Linked DNA regions of Homo sapiens. The protein of the gene in region 3 purifies or fractionates together with the protein of the main gene of each other region. This does not show direct contact. Each region holds a gene or a part of one and is shown on either strand. Other genes may lie near its edges. The genes, in order: ARFGEF3, MON2, SLC2A9, DOP1B, SLC67A2, FLVCR1 and SLC25A46.

Region 1 (2,613 bases), on a different chromosome or scaffold from region 3:
GGTATGAGCCACCATGCAAAAAATTTTGTTTTTAATTGACATCACTAATTACATTAATTGTACATATTTATGGGGTATAGTGTGATATTTTGATATATGTGTATTTAAAACAATAATCTAGTAAGATCAGGAAGTTAAAAGTGGCTGTATTTTTTAATATTACTTTTAAATACTAATATTCTTATTAATTGGATTTTTGGTTGTTTATGAACAAAAGGTAATACTTTAATTTTTTAAATGAATGATCTACATCAATATCTACTGACAGTAGGAATTTGATATAAGTTCTTATGAGTAAAAGATAATATCATAGAATAAGCCCTTTTTTTAAACAAGGAAATGATATATTATTTCTACAAATTTGTTTTTTAGGCATATACCAAATTGTCAATAATGACTATCTCCATGTTACAGGATTTAAAATGGGCCTTTACATTTAGACTTATGAAATGCCATGAAAAGGGGCCTAATTCTTTTGACAGAATTCTGTAAACACAGGATATTTATATATATTTATTCAGTAAACACAATTGTTTCATGTACCAGATTTTTAATGCATTTGAATCTTTATTCTACAACACAAGCAACATAAATACAATATCTTTTAAAATATTTTCTCTTTAGAATTTTCATTTCCACCTCAGATAAAATGTACACAAAATACACTTGCAAGCTTGCTTACAGAGACCTGTTAAACAAAGAACAGACAGATTCTATAAAATCAGTTATATCAACATATAAAGGAGTGTGATTTTCAGTTTGTTTTTTTAAGTAAATATGACCAAACTGACTAAATAAGAAGGCAAAACAAAAAATTATGCTTCCTTGACAAGGCCTTTGGAGTAAACAAAATGCTTCAAGGCTCCTGGTGAATGGGGTTGCAAGGATGAATTTTGCATTTTATAGGTAAAATGGTATACTGACTCAAATCATTATGGCTATAACAAGCTTCATTTATTTATAATCTTCAATGAAAATAAGTTGATTCTTTGGCATAATACTATAAGGAATAAAAGGACCCATACCACCCACTGGCTTTATCTAGAGTGGGAGATAGTAGTAGGGGAACTGTTTATAATGTAATTTGTCTAAGTTTATTCCTCTTAGAAAAGCGGGAAAAGCATATTGAATAATAGTCTCTTAGCATGATTAGGGCAATAAACATCTTATTCTTATCTGTCCCATCCCCACAACACAACACTAAGAAACAAAAATAACTTTTCCCTCTAGGCACCTCCTCCTGCCCCATCATGCCACACCTGGATATTCTATCACATTGTTTCAACTGAAGTGAAACCCAACTTATCAAAAGCATTCATCTTTGTTCAGCTTTGCCTATTTTGTGGGAAATCAATTTTTATTAGAGAGAAGCACTCCCAATAAGAACCAGATGAAAGAAATGTAGGACAAAGCAGCTTGCACATAATCCCGAGGTAGCCAGGGATGCTCACTGGGGCTGGCAGTGTCAGGGCCCGAGCCTCCCTAACTTTAAGAAAAAACATAATCTTTTACACATTGGTTCAAAAGATTGGCTTTTGGATTCCCTCCTCTCCTTTTTGGCACTGGTTGGTAAAACAAAAATAAATTACTCTTAGAGATTGACTTTTGAAATTTAATTTTAAAATCAGTGTTACTAAAAGAACTAAATGCACACATAATTTCCAAAAATTATGGGAAACTAAAGTAAAAAAAAAACCAAAAAAAAACACCCTTATTTCCATCCACAGAGGCAAAAACTCTGTAGATTGTCTCCTTGATATCATCAACATTCTGATATGCTTTCTGATCTCACTAATTCTAGTAAATATAATCATTTCCTTCCATTCCTACAATAGTCTAAACTAATTTAAATGAAGTCAGCATATTTATTAAGCAGAAGTCTTTAGAGAAACCTCATTGAATCAATAAGCATTATGTGTAATTAATACAGTTTATAAATAGGTGATGATTTTTAAGTGACTTGTTTTTTCTTAAATCATTCTCTGTATGGTCCTTAATTTTTTTTAATGGTAAAAGAATTTCCAAAACTAATTAATTCAGTAAAGAAGAGATAAACTAAGGCCCCCTCTATATGAGTTAACATGATTTCACTGAATTCCCAAAGCACACTGATTCACTTTTATATTTTTCCCATTATTTGGAAGATGAAATAATGAATATGGTCTCCACCATGTAGATATGTGCACAAACAACATATTTACTGAAAAGTCAAAAACAGGCACACCTGCTGCTTAAAAGGGAATTAGTTCATTTTGCAAATTTCCGTGAAGCCTTTGGGTAGACTCTTTACAGATATATATGAAATTAAAATGTTAATTTACGCCAGAAAATTAAATGAAAGATGAAGGTACAACAAGTAGTCTCATCTCATCTCAAATGGCTAATATTTTGGTGGCCAATGAAAGATGTAAAACAACTGGCAAGCAAACAACTATTCAAAAATCTGTAAGCCAGGAGCCAAGGCTGTAAAGGAGCTGACATGGAAACATCTCATTAAAACGACATGGATGGAAGAAATTCAAACACTACATACTTAAATTTAAAATCACCTTCAGTACAAGTCAAAGGGTCAACATGATACAAATGATCATCCATAGAATCAATGTTTCTAAA
Region 2 (3,500 bases), on a different chromosome or scaffold from region 3:
AAGTATTCTTAAAGAATTCAACAAGAAAATAAATTTTTGAATGTAAGTTTAACCTAAGTGGTTACAAACATTACTGTTCTACTAGTTCCATTAAAAAAAAATAACAATCACCATTTCAATGGTATCTCATAGTTTACAAAGGACTTCCAGATTTATCTTATTTTCCTCTCACAATTATTGTTTAAAATTGGTATTACAAGTTGAGTATCCCTTATCCGAAATGCTTAGGATCACAACTGTTTCCGATTTCAGATTTTTGAATATTTATATTATATATACTTATGCATTTATTTGCATAATATATTTGTAAATACTTATGTTTGCATTATATACCTATTCACATTATATACTTATCCAATGAGCCTTTCCTTTGTCATGTTGGTGCTCAACAAGTTTTAGATTTTGCAGCATTTTAGATTCTGGATTTTTGGATATCCCATGCCCACCCCCCACCCCCCACCCCATATTTTTAAAGAGCTCTCAGGGACATTAATTTCCCCAAGGTCACACAGTCAGTATGTGAAAAAGCAGAGACTTAAACTCAGATGTTTATAATCTTCTGTCTACACCATATCATCCCACTACATAGAGAGAATTTTGAGTAAGCCTGTCTTACATTTGTTGGAAAGTGTAGCTGCAGTGGTGGTATTCAATACAGTAAGAGCATAATGGGGAGGCAGGGAACCTTTGCATATTGCAGTTATAAAGGCATCTCTTGAAGTTACAAGGCCCAGTCTTCCACAAAGAGCAGCCATAGTCAGTTCAGCTTTTAAAATATTCTCAGTGGCAGCTTCATCTGTGCTGAAAAGAAAGTATTTTATTTAATCTGATTAACTTATTTTTAATTACATTGTAAAGCATGATGTGGAATTAAGTATTCAGTGACATTTTAAGAAAATCTATACAAAAATATTGTCAAAATATTACCAATATACTTAAGAAGGAATTTTAATCTATTAACATAACCTCAAAAATTTGAACTGGGTAAAAGCAATGAATAATAATACATGTATTTATTACTGAAGAAAATGACCAAGAACATAAAGATTTAGCTTAAAATATCAAGCATTTTGAAACCAGTAAATTTTTAAATCCTAAAGAAAAAGAACAAAGAAATTAAATATAATCATAATTGCAAAAGTAGTTGTAAGTCTTGAAATGAAAAAGGCATTCTGTAATTTTAGGACTGTATTTTCCATTAAAACATCATGACAATTCTGGTGGCTTGGGGCAGGGCAAGGACAGAATGAGGAAGGGGGATGAGGGAAAAAGAATAATGTTTCACACATATAAAAAACTAATATTAGAAAATAATTCTAGGGACAAATGTAAGTAAACCATTTTAATGTGTTTTTTTTAACTGACACAGTTCAATATAAAACTTACAAAGACTTAATACCTGGCATCAAGAAGGAGTGAGAGTGCAGCAAGAAGACCACACCAGCAGGCATTCACCATTTCTTCCCAAACAGCCCTACTAACTTAAAGGAAAAAAACATACAATATTTAATTTTAATTATAGATAGCACAATATGTATTAATATGTGAAATTCTAAAATTTTCCCAGACAATATGTCAAATATTCCATTAACAACTTAATTATTAAATCTAATATTCAGTATTTAAAAATCTAAAAGAACGAAAACTCAGAAGCCGTACTATAGTTTCAGGCTTGAAGAAGTCTTAAAAATAAGTTGTTGTAAAATATCTATGGTAAGATCTTTCTGTACACGTTAAATTTTATATATATATATAAAATATATATATATATATATATATATATTTTTTTTTTTTTTTTTTTTTTTTTGCGATGGAGTCTTGCTCTGTTGCCCAGGCTGGAGTGCAGTGGCATGATCTTGGCTCACTGCAACCTTCGCCTCCTGGGTTCAAGAGATTTTCCTGCCTTAGCCTCCTGAGTAGCTGGGATTACAGACACACGCCACCACACCTGGCTAATTTTTGTATTTTTAGTAAAGACAGGGTTTCACCATGTTGGTCAGGCTGGTCTCAAACTCCTGACCTCGTGATCCACCCACCTCGGCCTCCCAAACTACTGGGATTACAGGCGTGAGCCACCACGCCCAGCCATTTTTTTTTTTAAGAGACAGGGTCTTGTTATGTTACTCAGACTGGACTCAAACTCCTGGGCACAAGCAATCCTCCTGCCTCAGCCTCCCAGGTAGCTGGGATTATAGGCACATGCCACTATGCCCAGCTGATATCCTTTCCTTTCCCTTTGCCTTCATCAACCCAAACTTTCTCAGCCTGTGTGACCAGTTGGAGTGAGGGCAGGGCGCAGTGTAACAAACTGGCTCAGCCAGGAGACTGATTACATACACTGAGAATCAAGCAAATAAGTAAATACACTGAGCAAAATGTGAGCAGGTTCCAACACTGTTGGAGAAGGGAATTACAAATACAGAAAGTTAAAAATAAACCTTGTGGTACTGAACTGGAACTGAAGAAACTAGTGTGATGTCATGGTAATTCAATATAGAGAAACAGACATTTTAGAAATGTACAGAGACGTGTGCTTGTGTGTGGGGGTGTGTGTATGTGGCTATGTATTTCCTATCCAAGTGGTGAAAAGCATACCTAGTATACCTGTGTTCGTTTCAATACTATTCTCCACTAAAAGGAACCAGGACTTCCTGGAGAAATGACTGACACCTGGGATGGACAAGAATCATCCAAGATCAGCCTGGAACATCTTGTTCTATCAAATAGGAAGTGCTCAGAGAATGTCAAAAGGGCATGGGACATGTCCAAAGGACACACGGGTCATCTTGAAAGAGGTCCCATTGGCCATGTTGGGAACAATCTGAGCATCAAACCAAATAATAATAAAGACTATAATCCTCTGAATAAAATAGGAATCCATGAATCTACACTAATATAAGTGAATAATTTTTAAAAAATAAAAAAATGCAGAAGGGAAAGCACTCTTTTGTAGTAGCAATCTGAAAGTATTTTTCCACAAAAAGTTAATAATTAACTGTACACTGAAGAAACCAGGCTGACATTGTATTAACCAACTCATAGAAGTGAGCATCTCCAATAATGACACAAATTGATACTGTAGTATGCTTCCTAATGTAATGATACAGTAAGTACAGCACAGCAACATTTCTGTGCCAGTCCTGTCAAAAATGAATAAGCTGAATGTAATTATGAAGGAACACAACACAAACTCAAACTGACTGACTTGTACTCAAAAAAGTAAGGTCATATAAAACAAGGAAAAACTAAGAAACTTCCAAGTTGAGACATGGCAACTAAATTCAACACATAAAAGGACATCACTAGGGCAACTGGCAAAATTTGAATGAGACCTGGAGTTAGATGATAATATTGTATTGATGTTAAATTTCTGATGGTGATTGTACTATGATACACAGGAGACTAACCTTATTTTGAAAAAATACACACTGATGCATTAAAGGGTAGTAATACGGCATCATGTCTGCAACTTTTTCTATAAATAGGTCAGAAAAAAGTAT
Region 3 (3,774 bases):
CCCTGAAGTTTTGAGCCCATTCCTGGAACACAGTTTGGGAAAGACAAAATCTGCAGGCTGGTGTGTTGGTATTAGGCTCTCCAAAGCCTGAGATCCACAAGGTCAAATATTGGAAACAGGCATTTCTTAGGCACTATGAATAATCTTTCCACTGACTTCTGAAAGCCTATATCAGGGATGGAAGCCTAGGGTCATTGAGGCACTGGGATCCAGGTTGAGGGCAGGTCAAGGCTGCTTGTGGTAAAGCTGGGACTAGAACCTCAGTCTGTGATCTCTAATCCGTTGAGTCCCCTATCAGACCAAATTGATTTTTCTTTGATAAAGCATTAACCTACTATTTCCCCAATTTCATTTTGAAATCATGGGTTGAGTCATGAAGAAGGCAGGTCATCTACCTATATAGAAGAACGCTGGGTCTACTGAAACATAGAGTGATTCCTTGCAGCTTCCAGAAGGGTTTGGGAGATTCAGTTGTGAATAATGCTAACACAGTTGCAATGTTAGATTAGTACAGGTTTACTTTTAAATATTTAATAATATAAAAGACTTGCATAGCTTCAATTCATTTAAGCTTCCCAATAATGGGTAAATTTTAAGTTTCCTGAAAAGTGAGATCATCCATGTAGACAATCCTGTTTTTGACATAATTGTCCAACGTGGAGGAGGAAACTTGTTAAGGCCTTCCATTTATCTTACCATCAGTGACAGCTGAGTCGATTTTCTCTTCTGGTGGGTATGCTTTGTTCCTTTTGGAAAATGCCTGGCTGATTTCTGCATAGGTTCTGTTTTTGGTCTCAGGCAGCACAAAATACAGGTAGATAGCACCTGTGATACAAATTGTAGCAAAGACTAGGAAACAGTAGGTGTCCAGACTTTTCTGTGGAAAGGCAGAGACAAAAACCCTCAAATAGATAATCAGTAAACTTGCTGTTAAACCATCTCTACACAGATTTTTAAGATAGCTCCACATTCATATACCAATACTCCTAGACAAAACACCATGTGTGATGCTGGCTCAATAAGGCAAGTGTACCCTACATGAAGTGTTATCACATAAGGCTTGAATAAATCAGCTTCAAACTCTGGGAAAGATGAGAAAATGGCACTTTTTTGTTGTTGTTGTTGCAAATTTGGCATTTAAAAATTAATCATCACGAAAGCAAAATGGAATGCTTGCTGAATATTAGCTTAAGCTTATATTTACAATTAACCACATTGTCTTCTTGCTTCTACTATACACATGAGACAAGAATGACATCAAAAGGGAAGAGAAATGCCTTAGTTCATAGGAAGAATGTGGAGCACAGAATAGGCCAAGGTAATGCCAGTTTTTTCTAATATGCAAATGATCTAACTCACTAATTGATACTCTGAGGCGGCCTTGCACAAATAAGAGAGATCAGAAAAAATAGAAATGCTCAATGCAATCACTCCGTTTTATGTATCCTGATTAGTGTTTGGACTAGAATAACCCTGCCAACTGCACTAGACCTTGAGCTTCTCAGTGACTCAGTCACCTCTGTAGCTCCTGTGCCTTATAGGAGGTACTCAGGACATATTTGTGGAATAAAAGACTTGAAATCCTAGCCTCAATCAATCTGCTTGCTTTGGTCTCCCAGGTACTGGGATTATAGGCATGAGCCACCATTCCAGAAATAAAAGACTTTCTGGGTCCCAGCTGTCAGGATTGTGACTATTATATGCAACAAACATCTACTGATCCAAAGATAAGGTGACACTGTCTTTGAATAATATTTCCCAAGAAGCAATATCCAGATTTTAGTCAATTCCATTCTATTCTTTGATTTGACAAACATTTATTTTTGGAGAATGGCAAAGTGCTTAAGCTTGATCCCTGGATCACATCCTAGATCTACCATTTACTAAATCTGAGACTCTTTGTCCCTCAGTTTCCATGATTGAAAAAGAGGATAATCATGGTACATGTAGGGTTGTTGTATGAATTAAATGAGACATTCCCTTTAAAGTGCCACATGCAGTAAATGTTCCACACCTGGGGGTGCTTAGCTCTTGAGACTGTGCCTTCTGCTCGTACAAAGACTTCAAGAGTAGTGTGGAGAAGGGGGAGAGTATGGGCTCTGAAGCCAGTCGAGTGGGATTCAAATCCTGATCCCATTACTCACATGTTGTTCTAACACTTATGATGTGCCATTTAAGATAGAATTTCAATCCACTGAGCATCTGTTTCCTCATTTGCAACATGGTGATATATACCCACACATTGTTTTGAAGATGAAATGAGATATATCAATTTTGCATTCAACATCCTCCACACCCCCATCTGCAGGCGGAATGGACATCTGACTTATCAAGTCCAAAGTGGAGCCTCTAAAACTGCCTGCTCTAGCCTTCCTCATCTCTGCTGATGGCACCTCCATCCTTCTGATTGATTATGCCAACAAAAACACTTGGAGGCAGGCTGAGCTTCTCTCTCTCTCTCCCACCCACATCTGCTCCATCAGGAAATCATGTTGCTCCACCTTGAAATGTATTCCAAATCTGAGGGTTTGTCATCACTTCTATTGTAACCTAATTTTGGTGCAAGCCACCATCATGTTTTGCTTGGATTTTTGCAATAGCTTGTCAACTGATTTCCCTGCTTTTCACTTTAAGCATAATCTTAAGATTATTCTTAACAGACAAGCCAGAGTGATCCTGTTAAACAAAGGACAAAACTTGTCACTCCTCTGCTCAAAACCCACCATGACTTCCTAAGTCACCTGCAGGAAAGCCAAAGTCCTCACCATGGCCTCCAAGGCCACCGACCATGTGTCCCTCTTATTTCTCTGATCTTACTCTCCTCACTTTCTTTGCCCCAACTCCACTGCCTTTATGATTTCCCTCCAGTATTAGGCCTCAGAATCTTTGCACATGCTGTTCTCTCTTGCTGGAATAATCTTCGTTTAGGCCTCTGTATATCCTGCTTTCTTACTCCTCTTCATCCGACTTAAAGGTCATTTTCTCAGAGAGGTTCTCGTTGACTCTCATTTTGAAATAGCCCCTCCCAGCCCTGCTTCATTGCCTTCAAAAACACTCATCACTATGCAGCATTATAGTGTGCAACTGCCTGTTTATTAACCTTCTCCCTACCAAGAGGTAACTATCTGAAGGCAGGAGTCATCATTTTTCTTGTATTCCCAGAGCCCGGAGAGTCTCTGATATACAGTAGATGCTCTGAGTATCTTAGTGAGTGGATGGATGGACTGAGGCTCAGAGAGGCTTCCTGCCGTATCCCAGGCCACAAACAGGGCTTCCTAGGACCTCTCTGACACCCACACAGCTGCCTCTTGCTTGGCTTTCTTTTCCCAAGGGACCTGATGGGTGTCGTGAGGATTATTCTCACAGTTTCACAAAATTCAGTCAAGAACATGTGGCTCAGCCGAGCACAGTAGCTCACACCTGTAATCCCAGCACTTTGGGAGGCTGAGGTGGGTGGATCACTTGAGGTCAGAAGTTCAGGACCAGCCCGGCCAACATTGTGAAACCCCATCTCTACTAAAATTACAAAAATTAGCTAGGCGTGGTGGCAGTCGCCTGTTATCCCAGCTACTTGAGAGACTGAGGTAAAGATTAAAACTGGACCCCCTCCTTACACCTTATACAAAAATTAACTCAAGATGCTTAAAGACTTAAATGTAAAACCCAAAACTATAAAAACCCTAGAAGAAAATCTAGGCAATACCATTCGGGACATAGTCACGGGCAAAGATTTCATGACAAAAATGTCAAAAAAAAAAAAAAAGAAGAGCAACA
Region 4 (3,500 bases), on a different chromosome or scaffold from region 3:
GCCTGGGCAATAGAGTGAGACTCTGTCTCAAAAAAAAAAAAAAAAAGAAAAAGAAAAAGAAAAAAGAAAAAAAGGAAAAACCCACCAAAGTCATCCAGGCAGCAGGCAATGTTATAGGAGGTCAAACCTGGAGGTTTCTGGCCGACTAAGAACACTGCAGCTCTTGCCTCAACCTCAACATTACTTTCAGAAAGAGAATTAACTGGAAACTGGACCAAAGGGGTTGAAGCATTCTTTCAACAGGCAGGTGCCGAGCAGGCACTGGGGAATGCACAGATGTACCCTCTGGGGAGTTTGGTGAATTTACAGTGGTTGTCAAGATCACTCATTCTGGGGTTCAGCTCCACAGCACTTGGTCACCTCTGGGGTCTGCTCGAATTGGTTACCACGCAGCATGGATAAAGAGCCACGCCTACCAGCTTTAATTCCACTAACTTGACTCTTCCCTTTTCCCTGCACAACGCTGTGGCAGGTGCCTGCCTCACTTTCAAAACACTATTATACCCCCAAATCGTGTCCTCCATCTTCCCAGCCCTGAACTGAGCTCATTAAACATGCATGGTCTGCAAAGGGCTACAGCCCCTTGCCAAGTGGCAGGGAGCAGGAGCCAGTGTGCCTGCCCCAACAAGGGTGAGACCCAGAAGGAGGGCTGGTCCCCACTTCCGGGAGGGAAATTTCTAAATTTCTAAAGACATTCTTATACTTCATAGACTATATGAAGTTTATATCTCATAGACTGGAGTATTTTAGGCATAACTTAGATCAAATAACTTCTTTGGCCCATTTATTTCTACTCAACAAAACCGTCTTTCTCTGCATAGATCAAGTTAACCACTGACTGGCTCAAACTCCTAACCATTATTTTGTTACTTTTTCTCTAAGGGAAAGTGATTTCCAACAATCACATTACAATTGAATTCTGATATATAACTTTTTGACTACGTAGACCGCCCCCCCCCCGACTTCCTTGCTGTCACTATGGCAAATATATATGCAAGAGACTCCCTTCCGGAAGGTTTAAAAAATTTTTTTGCAAGGTTTTTGAGAGTTGATGCCGATCACAAATCCATACCTACTCCCTCATATATATTTTTTTGAGGCAGGGTCTCACTATGTGCCCCAGGCTGGAGTGCAGTGGCACGATGTCAACTCACTGCAACCTCTGCCTCCTTGGCTCAAGTGATCCTCCCACCTCAGCCTCCCAAGTAGCTGGGACTACAGGTGTGTGCCACCATGCCAGGTTAATTTTTGTATTTTTTTTTTTTAGACATGGGATTTTGCCGTGTTGGCCAGACTGGTCTCGAACTCCTGAGCTCAAGCAAGCAGCCCTCAGCCTCCTAAAGTGCTGGATGCTGGGATTACAGGCGTGAGCCACCGAGCCGGGCCTTCCTTCACATGTTTAAACCTTACTCTACTCCTCTGTTCTGGGTGTTGTCTTAGTTATCTGAAATCTGCCAACACTACCTGATAAGAAAGGTCAGGGCACCCTTGGGCTATCTGACCTTTTCTTGTTTGCACTGTGGGAAGCAGGAACTCTGGTATGTGAGCTGTTCCCGCAGGATTAAAAAAAGGCTGAAAGATCAGACAACAGCCCTGTCTGGAGTCTGAGAATTGGGGGCACGTCCTGGCTATGGGTAAGGTTGCTGTGTCTCTAGTTCCAGCATCTGCAACAGGGACAGGCACTAGCTGCCGCTGTCCTCAACTCTCAAGAACTGTACAGTACATAAAAGTGTGCTCCAAGGAATAAATCTTGGTACTCTACTGCACAGTAGGGTGACTACTGCTAACAATAATGCATTGTGTATTTCAAATTGCTAGAAGAGAGGGTTCTGAATGTTTTCACAACAAAGAAATGATAAATGCTTAAGGTGATGGGTATGCTAATTACCATGATTTGATCATCATACAATGTATAAATGTGTCAGAATATCAAATTGTACCCATATATATATACAATATTACATGTCAATAAAAAAAGTATGCTCTTGGCCGGGTGCGGTGGCTCACGCCTGTAAGGCACTTTGGGAGGCTGAGGTGGGAGGATCACTTGAAGTCAGGAGTTTGAGACCAGCGTGGCCAATATGGTAAAACCCCGTCTCTACTAAAAATACAAAAATTAGCCAGGTGTGAGGGCGCACATCTGTAGTCCCAGCTACCAGGGAAGCTGAGGCAGGGGAATCGCTTGAATTCAGGAGGCAGAGGCCAAGATCATGCCATTGCACTCCAGCCTGGGCAACAGAGCAAGACTCTGTCTCAAGGAAAAAAAAAAAAGAAAAGTATGCTCTAGTGCCAGGCAAATGGTAAGTACTTGAATATGTACTACATGAAAATGAAAGTAAAAATCAAGGCTTCAGTAAGAACTTGGAAAAGCTTCCCTCACTGCCCCAAAATAAAAGGAATGTATTTAATGCTGCCACTTTTATTCTATGAGTACCTTTCCAAAGATTCATGATCTCAATTCTTTCTTCTTTTTTCTCCCCTGTGCCTATATATAGTGTAAATATGCCAAATTTTCTGATCTCTGATCTATGTAGGGCCAAGATGACACTTGCTTAATCACTGCTGCTTATAGCGGTTCCAGTCCTGGTTTCAAGTTCTGTCTATTCAAGATCTAATGTGACTCAACTCTAGCAGGAAGAAGAAATGTGGTACAAAAGTCAATAAGCAGCTGGGCACGGTGGCTCACACCTATAATTCTGGCACTTTGGGAGGCTGAGGCGGGCCTCCCAAACTCCTGAGGTCAGGAGTTTGAGACCAGCCTGGCCAATGCGGTAAAACCCCATCTCTACTAAAAATACAAAAATTAGCCAGGTGTGGTGGCAGGTGCCTGTAGTCCCAGCTACTCGGGAGGCTGAGGCAGGAGAATTGCTTGAACATGGGAGGCAGAGGTTGCAGTGAGCCGAGATCGTGCCACTGCACTCCAGCCTGGGTGACAGAGCGGGACTCCGTCTCAACAACAACAACAAAAAAAGTCAATGAGCAATTAAGTAAAAGCTCCCCCAGGACCTGACACCGTAGATGGTGTCCCACATGGAACCAAAGCTGAGCGGTGTGAGGAGTTCCACAGACAGACCCTCTCCCAAGCAACACAACCATAACTGGTGAAAATTATTTTAAAACCAACAACAACCAACCATTTAGAGTCTGGAAATTATCCAAAGGACATTCAGGAAATAAAGAAACATTTATTCCGGAAAACCTACGACATTTCGGTCAAAGCAGCAAGAGTCATGGCACTTGAGCCATGACCTGCTCATCATCTCCTTCCTTCCCCAGCTTAGCTCCATGGAAACGTCACTATCCACTCTGGTGCATGTGGCCAAGCAAAAGGGTGCTCTCTTTCCCCAGCTCCCAGTCAAGGGCTTTTGCACCTCCTGGGAGGGGCAGGCCACCAGCACGTCACCTTCCCACCCCTCTGCTGGATGTGGCAGAGGCTAAATCCAGGTGAGTGCAGTGGAGGAGTCATGGGCTCCCTGCCTCCACCCAGACCCCACTCCCAG
Region 5 (3,500 bases), on a different chromosome or scaffold from region 3:
CAAGCGATTCTCCTGCCTCAGCCTCCTGAGTAGCTGGGATTACAGGCATATGCCACCATACCCGGTTAATTTTGTATTTTTAGTAGAGACGGGGTTTCTTCATGTTGGTCAGGTTGGTCTCGAACTCCTGACCTCATGCGATCCGCCGCCTCTGCCTCCCAAAGTGCTGGGATTACAGGCGCGAGCCACTGCGCCCAGCCCAAGAGTTCTCTTTTCTCCACATCCTCATTAACACTTATCTTTTAAAAATATGTCTGTATTAGCCCTCCTAACATGTGCGAGGTGATTTTTCGTTGTGGTTTTGATTTGAATTTCCCTGATGATTAGTGACATTGAACACCTTTTGTTTTTCCATCAGCCACTCCTTGGAGAAATGTCTATTCAGATTTTTTGCCCATTTTTAAACTTGGTGTTTTTTTGTTTTTGTTTTTGTTTTTTTTGCTGTTGAGTTGAAGGAGTACCTTGTATAGTTTGGATATTAACTCTTTATCAGATGTATGATTTGCAAATCGTATCCACTGTGCAGGTTACTTTTTGCTTTGCAGATTGTTTCCAGGTTGCTTTTTCACTTTGCTGATTTGTTTCCATTGCTGTGCAGAAGCTTTTTCGTTTCAGGTAGTTCCACTTGTCTATTTTTGGATTGGTTTTGTTGTTATACCTAAGAAATTATTGCCAAGGTCAATTTCAAGAAGCTTCTACCTTCTTTTACAGTTTCAGGTCTTATGTTTGTCTTTAATCCATTTTGAGTTGATTTTTATCTTTAATCTATTTAAGTTGATTTTTGTAATGTGATGTGAGGAAGGGATTAATTTTATTCTTCTGCATGATACATATTTTAGTTGCAATTTAAAAGGGAAATATTTTATTTTTAATGTATTTAATATAAATTTAAATACAATTATGGAAGTAAGAAAGAAGACTATGCAATCTCCTGCTACAGACCCCCAGTTGTTTCTATCATGGTAATGCACATGCCTCACAGCTGGCACAGTGGTAGGTGATGGGCAGACCCTGCCCCTCTCTCTGCCTTCCTCCATACATTCTGGCCATGCTGGCTTTCTGGTCTACCATATGTATGCCAGGCTCATTCCCATAGGAGGGCATTGTACCAGGCCTGTCTTCTACCTGCCACATTCATCCCACATCTGTTATTGGCTCTCTCTTTTCAGCATTCAAGACTGAAATATCTGCTTCCTTAGGCCTTCTCTGACCATTCTGCCTAAAAGAGCTTAATTTTCTTCATAGCATTCTTGAAATTATGTTATTAGTTTGTTTTACTGCTTACGTTCTCTTTGTTCCCCCAAATCAGTAGGCAGACTCCATGAGGGAAGAGATTTTGTCAGATTTACTCACTGCTATCACCCCTGTGCAGAATACACATTGGGCCGGGTGCAGTGGCTCATGCCTGCAATCCCAGCACTCTGGGAGGCTGAAGCGCGAGGATTGCTTGAGCCCAGGAGTTCAAGACCAGCCTGGGAAAGATAGTGAGACCCTGTCTACAAAAAATTTTTTTTTAATTATCCAGGCATGGTGACACATACCTGTAGTCCCAGATCCTCGAGAGGCTGAGGCAGGAGGATTGTTTGAGCCCAGGAGGTCAAAACTACAGTGAGCCGTGATCACACCACGGCATTCCAGCCTGGGTGACAGAGTGAGATCCTGTCTCAAATAAAGACATACATATATACATACAGACACACACACAGACACACACACACACACACACACACAGGACTATGAGCTCCTTGGATGCAGGGCTGGTTGCTTAAAATGTCTTTCTTCTTCTTCACTTAGAGAGTGGTGCATGGCTGGCCCTTGGATAAATGACTTCATAAACGAGAATTCATGCTAGGCAGTTTTCCTTACATTTAATGATATTGTACTTTACTGCAGCTTTTTGAATCTTCATATTCAAGGTTCTCTTTTGCATGATGATTTCCTTATTGGGTTAGGATGTCAGACCCAGGAAGCAAAGTTCATGAGCTTATTCTCAGTCCTCACAGAAATACATTATGATTTGTTGCCAGGAATTTACTTAGCCTGTAACTTGAATCAGGAGGGGTGCACATAAACCTAGATAAAAATCTCAAACACATGCCTCGTTGATGTGACCAGGTATCTTCACATATAAAGGAAGGTACATGAATGTGGTATCACTCAAAATTGAAAGTCAGCATATAACAAAGGAATTGGTTATGGAATTCTATTTTGGATCCTTCAACAATAGTGCCATTTAATATGTTGCCCTATCTTAAGCCTATAAATGGGTCTAAGCAGTTAGGAAAACATTCCGCTGCAAGTGTTCCCAACTACAATGGCTTCAAGGAAGAGGGACTTGTTTTTCCAACATAAGAAACTTGAGGATAGGCAGGCTGGGGCCAATAGAATAGCAGAGGAGGAGAGGGAGGATGACCTGGCTAGACAGCACATACTGTCCCACCCAGGGCTTTGGCCATTCAGTGCAGTGAACATATCATCATGCTGCTTTCTCATTCCAGTCTTGCCATCCTTTACCCCTGAATGACTATAGCTGTTTTCGTCAACGCTTTTACTCCGTTAGCTTCTTATATCCTCCTCTGATCCGCCACTTTGCCTGAGAAAGCCTTTTCATTGTGATTTCTGTTCATATGGTTAGGAACTCCAAACTCTGGAATCTGACAGACTCAGGTTCAAATCCCTGCTTTGCCAGTTTTTAGTGTGACCCTTGGGCAAATTGTCTTCCATTTTTTCATCTATAAAATGGGGTAACAAAACACATAGCCTTGTTATGAGAACTGTAAGAGGTTCTGCATACAAGCAGCTTACCCCAGAGCCTGAGGTAGGATTGCATAGACCTTGTCTTGTTTGTTAATATTTTCTTAGCGTTTCACACTTACGAACTCCATGAATATTGGAAGGTTGGACAGATGGATGGGTAGGTGGGTGGATTGCTTATAGTAAGCACTCAACAGAAGTTAGTTGCCATCATCATCATCATTTTTATTATTTTAATTCTACTTTTTTAGTTCATCAGCAATAATTCTTTCACATCTTTATCAATATTCTGTGTAATGTTCAAGGGCCCTTTTAAGATTGAATTATTAAAAGTCCACATCCTCCACATTCTCATGTGGTTGGTTTTCCGTTGTAAATTTGTCTATGGCTGAAGCACTTATACAATATTTGGAGAAATGACACACAAATGAAGTTGCTGAAAACAACATGAAGCAGCACTGAATAGCCACTGGTCTGAGTTGAACTTTTAAGTGCTCTTTAGCACTTAAAAAACAGTAGGATAGAGTTTGGAGGGATGTCCTAGAATGGCAAGTTTGAATTCAGTTTTAAGAACACTTTTGGGCATGGATTGGCAAGAGATCAACAGGCAAGAATGTGCTAGTCCTATGAGGACAGAGGTGGGATCATCTGAGTGGCGGTTAGAGCCACTGCGTAAGGTTGTATATGTTGTGGTCTATGAGAATGGTGCCCCCTGAGGTTTTGCAGGTGTGACCTGCACAAGCACT
Region 6 (3,500 bases), on a different chromosome or scaffold from region 3:
CTCAGATCCAAGAGAGGAATAATTATTTCTGGCAGCTACAGCCTTTTGAAGTGTATTTCTTAAAGAATAAGACTTGAAAGTTGAAATTACTCCTTGATCCACGGGCTGCAGAAGGGATGCTGTGTTTCCAGACATGAAAGCAACATTGATCTCCTCGTACATCTTCATCAGAGCTCTTGGGTAAACAGGTGAATTGGTCAATGAGCAGTAGTATTTTGAAAGGAATGTTTTTCTCAGTAGCAGGCTTCAACAATGGGTTTAAAATATTCAGCAAACCATGCTACTAACAGATGTACTATCAACTACGGGGTTCAGGTTCATTGTTCCATTGTTAGAGCTTAGGCAGAGAAAATTTGGCCTAATTCTTAAGGGCCCTAGGATTTTCAGAATGGTCAACAAGCATTAGTTTCAATGTGAAGTCACCAGCTGCATCAACCCCTCACAAGAGAATGAGCTTGTCCTTTGAAGCCAGACATTGATTCCTCCTCTCTAGCTATGGCAGTCCTAGATGGCATCTTCTTCCAGTATAAGCCTGTTTCATCTACATGGAAAATTTGTGGTTTATTGTAGCCACCTTCATCAATCATCTTAGCTAGATCTTCTGGATAACCTACTTCAGCATCTACATCAGCACTTGCTGCTTCACCTTGCACTTTTATGTTATGAAGACAACTTCTTTCCTTACCTCATGAACTGACCTCTGCTAGTTTCCAGCTTTTCTTCCGCAACTTTCTCACCTCTTTCAACGTTCACAGAATTGGACAGTTAGGGCCTTGCTCTAGATTAGGCTTTGGCTTACGGCGATGTTGTGGCTGGTATGATCTTCTAACAAGACCACTCAAACTTTCTCCATATCAATAGGCTGTTTTATCATTTGTGTTCACTGGAGTAGCATTCTTAATTTCCCTTAAGAATTTTTCCTTTGCATTAGCAACTTGGCTAATTGTTTGGTGCAAAAGGACTAGCTTTTGGCCTATCTGGGCTTTTGACATGACTTGTTCACTAAGCTTAATCATTTTTAGCTTCTGATTTAAGAGGAGAGATTTACTACTCTTCCTTTTGCTTAAACACCTGGAGGCCACTGTAGGGGTAATAATTTGGGGGTATTAATCAGGGCCCTGATTTCAATATTGTTGTGCCTCAGGGAATACCATTTGAGATGGTAAAAGCATCAATGTAAAACTAATTTTAAAGATCTATTTTCACTTCTTAATTTTCTAGACTTGATTTGTTTGAATTAGTATTCATGAATCTCTTGTAAAAGTAATTTGAAGGAGGATTACAAAACTGCTCCCTTCTTTGGTATAACAATAATACTGTTTTTTTTTTTGAGACGGAGTCTCACTTTGTCACCCAGGCTGGAGTGGTGGTGTGATCTTCACCACTCACTGCAACCTCCGCCTCCCGGATTCAAGCAATTCTTCTGCCTCAGCCTCCCAGATTCAAGCAATTCTTCTGCCTCAGCCTCCCAAGTAGCTGAGATTACAGGTGTGTGCCCATAAAACTGGCTAAAGTTTTTTGTATTTTTAGTAGAGACACGGTTTCACTATGTTGGTCAGGCTGGTCTTGAACTCCTGACATCAAATGATCCACCTGTATCAGCCTCCCAAAGTGCTAGGAATACAAGTATGAGCCACCACGTCCAGCCAATAGTAATAATCTTAGATAAGATATAGTACTTGCCTAGGAATTAAGAACCAACATGGAATTACTTATGAAAGAACAATAGTTAAAGCAGTTAATGTATTACATATTTCACAGTTTTGTATGTTTTATTTTACTAACTGGACAGGGGGAAAAACTCCCTGTGATAAGATGTTTTTCTTTGAGGAAACAGAGTGCATTCACTTTCTTTTAGCTTCGTGAATGAATGCTCAGGTTCCTATCATTCATACAATTGAGTGAGCGACCTTAGGTAGTTGTGTATATCCAAAATGTCTATCACTGGTGAGATTTCATATTGAAGGTTTCACAAAGAATGATCAGGTATTCCACAAACAGTAGAAGAAATTCTGATTCACATCCTTCTGATAGATTCTCCAACTAAGTTATAACCAGATCCTCCAACTAAGTTATAACCAGATCAACGAAGCACAACCTCCCTTGGTATCTGCGGGGGATTGATTCCAAGACCCCACCTCAGATACCAAAATCCACGAATGCTCAAGGCCTTTATATGAAATGGTGTAGTATAAGCTTGTTCAACCTGTGGTCTGCAGCCCATATGTGGCCCAGGACAGTTTTGAATGTGGCCTAACACAAACTCACAAATTTTTAAAAAACATTATGAGATTTTTTGCAATTTTTTTTTTTTAGCTCATTAGCTATCATTAGTATTAGAGTATTTCATGTGTGGCCCAAGATATTTCTTGTTCCAATGTGGTCCAGAGAAGCCAAAAGATTGGACGCCCCTGGGAAGTATTTACATATAACGTACACACATCCTCCTATGTACTTAAACCATCTCTAGATTACTAATACCTAATACAATGTAAATAGCTGTTATACTATAATGTTTAGGGAATGATGACATTTTAAAAGTATGCACCTGGAAAAAGTTCTGCTTCCAAATCTATTGTACACCCATGTGCATGGGCAAACTATGGATAAAAATTCTCTGACATTCTCTTTCTCTGGAGATTGAGCACTATTTTCTTTCCTGCCCATGTCTATGATGACTATACCTAAGAAGTATAAGCACTAGCTAAGGATTCCACATACTATTTCCACCACTACCACTTGACTGCTTACCATCTCTACCACATTATAACAATAGTAACACATGTTAGGCACGTCCCAGGTGCCAGACACTAGGAACTTTTCATGAACCATTTCAATTAATCCTCACAGTAACCCTATAAAGCAGGCTTTAACACTCTATTATATAAATAAGGAAAGGAGGATTTGAGAGGTTAAGCAACGGGTCTAAAGTCACACTCCCACTGAGCAACAGAATCGGAATTTGAGGCCAGGTCTTCCCAACTCCAGGTCTTTACTACTCTTTTTTTTTTTTTTTTTTGAGACAGAGTCTCGCTGTTGCCCAAGCTAGAGTGCACTCGTGTGATCTTGGCTCACTGCAACCTCTGTCTCCTGGGTTCAAGCAATTTTCCTGCCTCAGCCTCCCAAGTAGCTGGGGCTACACGTGTGCGCCACCACAACTGGCTAATTTTAGTAGAGACGGGGTTTCGCCATGTTGGCTAGGCTGGTCTCAAACTCCTCACCTCAAGTAATCTGCCCGCCTCTGCCTCCCAAAGTGCTGGGATTACAGGCATGAGCCAACACACCCAGCCTTTACTACTCTTATTATAACAGTTTTGCTTGCTATGCAGAGTAACTGTATTGAATTTGAAATCTGCAAAATGAAGTAAGAGATTCATGTCTTTAGAAGAAAACAAATAATGTCCTGCTTTTTATCTCATTTTTTTCCCCTTGAGTTCTGTCAAGCTATTGAGAAGCAATATATATGAAAATTAACACATGACACAAGTCCTTTTGCCAGG
Region 7 (3,500 bases), on a different chromosome or scaffold from region 3:
TAGATCTCCATAAATCTGTCTATACAACTCCATTTATTTTATACTGCCATTTGAATATATCTTGATCAGAACATCTATATATTAAAAAAAGAAACACATTCCAAACCCATAGAGAATAAACTTAAAAAGGCACAATCGTATTTTAATGTAGCACCTCAGCTTCTTTTCCTGATATTCAATTTCATACATACCCAATATTCCAAACATAAGACACTTCTTTTATTACCTAGACTGTCCAACCCCGTGACATTGGACATGTTACCTCTTCTTGCTTACATGTGTCTCCTTCATTAAATGAATACTTAAAGAGCGGGAATTGCTCACATACCCACATTTGTTCCTCAGCTGGCAGTTGCTGGCACATAGCAGTAGAAGCTGAAAGATACATCTCAATAGATACTAAGCCAAGACACATTTTCTTTATCACATACTAATTTAATAATATATAATTAATTTTATTCTTTGTTTTTTCTTTTAGTTACTTCAGACAAGTTTTCAGATTCAAGGTATTTTTTATTTATTATTAAAACAATATAATAGGGGAGGGATGGGGACAAGGGTTGAAAGCTACCTATTGGGTATGATGTTTACACAATTGAGAATTGTTGGATGAGAGGATCATTAGAAGTCCAAACTTTAGCATCACACAATATACCCATGTAACAAGCCTGCACATGTACCGCCTGCATCTAAAAACACATCACCACATGAAACTAATACTGAAGAAATGCTAAAAATGGTACCTTGGCAAAGGTGTAAATTCACTAATTATGCCTTCTGCTCCAAGTGTGACTCCCTGGACAATAAATGTACTTCCCATTCCTTTCCACAGGGCTCTAGGTCCCTAAATTGAACAAAATTCATGTTATTTCTGTTAATACCTACATCTGAAACACAAAAGATCTTAATAAAACTTGATATTGTGTAGACATTTTCCAATAAAACATTATTCTAATAGAAATATTAGTAGAGAACTACAATTAATTTTATATCATTTTAAAGTTATACTTAGGCCAAGAAGAACATTCCTATTAATTAAAACCCCTAATGATTAACTAATTTATTAAATATCCCTAATATCTATATATTCAACTCCCTACTAGTCCTGTCCTGTGGATGACACAAGGTAACTTGAAACTTACATATCCACAACTTAACCCAATCATACTCACTCATACCACACCAATTCTTTCCTTCTCTGCTGTATTTCCTATTTCCCTAGATAGCAGCTTCATCATCCTAGTGTCCAAACAATATATCTAGAAAACATTTTTATCTCACTCTTCCTATCTAATCAGTCCCCAGGTTCTACAAATTCTACTCCCTTAGTATCTTACAAATCCATGCTCTTCTCCATACTTAACACTATTACTTTATATCAATTTGACTACAAGTTTCACTGTCTCTGGTTTTGCCCCTTTGCATGATACCATCAGTAATACTCCTATTATTTATCTATATTATCTATATTATTAATAGATATACATGATAGAATTAAAAAGAAGCAATAGGGTATCAGCTGAAAAGTCTGTCTCCTTTTCATCCCAGTCCTCAGCAGCAGTTTTAAAATTTATCGGGATAATCCATGCATATACAAGTATATCTGTGTGTGTATGTTATAGAAATATTTTTGTTTTGCTTATTTTTAACAGGTAGTATTATCTTGAAACATAAAAAATATCCTGGAGATCATTCCACATTAGTATACACAGAGCTACCCTCTTATTTTTAAAGGTTACAAGGTGTTTCACCATAATATACCATAATTATTTCACTGGTACCCTAGTGATGGACATTTAATCATTTCCAGTCTATTATATGCAATGTCATAGGACATCCTTGTATATATATTTTTGCATATATATGTGCACATCTATGTGGGATAAGTTCCTGGAAGTGAAAGAACATGTACATTTTAAATTTTAATAGATATTGCCAAACAATCCAAAGGTCTTCAAGATATTTTGGTCATGGCTAAAACACCTTCAACAGTACTCTTGTAGCTTTTAAGATCTAGTAGTGTGCAGTTCTTAGAAGGTGCTTTAGAATCTGGATCCTGCTTACTTCTCTGGCTACTTTTTCATCTTTCTCTTACTCTTCAACCCCCACTTCAAGCTCCCATTGTACTCCATTAAATCCATTCCCAAACATTATGATCTCTCTTTGTCTTCTGCCTTCACACGTCTACTTTAAAAACCTTTTCTCTATCCTCATCATGAAGAGTCAGACTTCTCAACAAGAAGCACACAATTCGGGCCTTTCTTTTCCCAAAGTTTTTCCCAGCCATACACTGTGCCCAAGCCCAGTTTTGATAAGGTACTTCTCTTTTGTATTCTGACAGCATTCTGTACTTCTAATATTGCCTTTATCTTACTGCAGCACAATCTTCAAAGATTTTGTCTCCATGAATAAATATGAGCCTCTTGATAGCAGAGACATCATCTTAGCACAGCTCTTTGTGGTTTTGCTAAATTAAATTGTACTTTTGCTAAATTACATTTTGAAAGATTCAAAAACATATCGTTGTGCTACTTTAGTTTTACTACAACAGTTAAGATGTTTTATTGACCAAACTGAAAGTAATTATTCTTGCTTTAATGATTACTAAACCCAAATGACACTTATATAAACCTTTAATAGAATCCAGACAAAATTCTCACCTGAGTTTTGTTGAAACTGTACATAATATTGATGACTGTAAATGGAGTGAGATGGTAATGCTGAGCATGGTAATTAACCTGTAAAAAAGATATTTCATTATTTTTTTCTGTTAATGTTTTGTCAAGAAATAACAGAGCCATGAAAGAAATATGGTGGAATTGCAGTATAAACAAAAGTTAATTCCAAAGTCAACATAAATTACACATAAGCAAAATTACTCTTAAAAGTGCTTTAAATAACCTATTAAAAGTACAGTATGTATGGTTATATAAATACAATCTGAAGACCAATGCATAATACACACAGTACTGTAGACTATATAATAAAGAGGGTCTTATTTGATATTTGGTTTGCCTTAAACAACTGAATTACATCTCCCAACTCATGTTCATTTTAGGCAAGCATTTTTCAAACTGTACTTGGCAACTGACTGGTATATGAAATCAACTGGGGGAGTGTCAAAACAATATTTATTATGTGAAACAATAAAATATTAGAATGTATTACATTCTAATGGTATTATTTCATAAAACATTTAAAAATAATATATTTGTTACTTATATGTAATGTATCCATTGGATCTCCATGTTAATATTACTACAATGTAAAATATATATCTGAAATACACTGTTCTGTGGCACATACAGTCAATGCTACTTTAATGGTATTTCTGTATACATACTTTTCAGTGCTAAGCATGAACAGATTAATTTATAATGATTTATACTGTTTTGAACTCTAACAGCTAACAAATACAGGAAGCATTACTTTACAGAGAAAGTGGGTTATAACAGGACGGGCGCAGTGGCTCACACCTGTAATCCCACCACTTTGGGAGG

Evidence for each region.
Region 1: the proteins of SLC2A9 (region 3) and ARFGEF3 purify together in Homo sapiens (affinity purification with mass spectrometry; one large-scale study listed by BioGRID and IntAct). This does not show direct contact.
Region 2: the proteins of SLC2A9 (region 3) and MON2 purify together in Homo sapiens (affinity purification with mass spectrometry; one large-scale study listed by BioGRID and IntAct). This does not show direct contact.
Region 4: the proteins of SLC2A9 (region 3) and DOP1B purify together in Homo sapiens (affinity purification with mass spectrometry; one large-scale study listed by BioGRID and IntAct). This does not show direct contact.
Region 5: the proteins of SLC2A9 (region 3) and SLC67A2 purify together in Homo sapiens (affinity purification with mass spectrometry; one large-scale study listed by BioGRID and IntAct). This does not show direct contact.
Region 6: the proteins of SLC2A9 (region 3) and FLVCR1 purify together in Homo sapiens (affinity purification with mass spectrometry; one large-scale study listed by BioGRID and IntAct). This does not show direct contact.
Region 7: the proteins of SLC2A9 (region 3) and SLC25A46 purify together in Homo sapiens (affinity purification with mass spectrometry; one large-scale study listed by BioGRID and IntAct). This does not show direct contact.

The regions. Positions count from the first base shown.
Region 1 is NC_000006.12:138,342,551-138,345,163, reverse strand, and holds the end of ARFGEF3 (brefeldin A-inhibited guanine nucleotide-exchange protein 3), read right to left. Parts: 3' UTR 501-2,613; downstream 1-500. UniProt on the Homo sapiens protein: Participates in the regulation of systemic glucose homeostasis, where it negatively regulates insulin granule biogenesis in pancreatic islet beta cells. Also regulates glucagon granule production in pancreatic alpha cells.
Region 2 is NC_000012.12:62,532,826-62,536,325, reverse strand, and holds part of MON2 (protein MON2 homolog), read right to left. Parts: intron 1,482-3,500; coding exon 1,400-1,481; intron 802-1,399; coding exon 617-801; intron 1-616. UniProt on the Homo sapiens protein: Plays a role in regulating membrane trafficking of cargo proteins. Together with ATP9A and DOP1B, regulates SNX3 retromer-mediated endosomal sorting of WLS away from lysosomal degradation.
Region 3 is NC_000004.12:9,825,724-9,829,497, forward strand, and holds the end of SLC2A9 (solute carrier family 2, facilitated glucose transporter member 9), read right to left. Parts: intron 878-3,774; coding exon 674-877; 3' UTR 501-673; downstream 1-500. UniProt on the Homo sapiens protein: High-capacity urate transporter, which may play a role in the urate reabsorption by proximal tubules. May have a residual high-affinity, low-capacity glucose and fructose transporter activity. Transports urate at rates 45- to 60-fold faster than glucose.
Region 4 is NC_000021.9:36,233,324-36,236,823, reverse strand, and holds part of DOP1B (protein DOP1B), read right to left. Parts: intron 1-3,500.
Region 5 is NC_000002.12:102,719,889-102,723,388, reverse strand, and holds part of SLC67A2 (major facilitator superfamily domain-containing protein 9), read left to right. Parts: intron 1-3,500.
Region 6 is NC_000001.11:212,889,275-212,892,774, reverse strand, and holds part of FLVCR1 (choline/ethanolamine transporter FLVCR1), read right to left. Parts: intron 1-3,500.
Region 7 is NC_000005.10:110,745,507-110,749,006, reverse strand, and holds part of SLC25A46 (mitochondrial outer membrane protein SLC25A46), read right to left. Parts: intron 2,739-3,500; coding exon 2,661-2,738; intron 845-2,660; coding exon 744-844; intron 1-743. UniProt on the Homo sapiens protein: Transmembrane protein of the mitochondrial outer membrane that controls mitochondrial organization.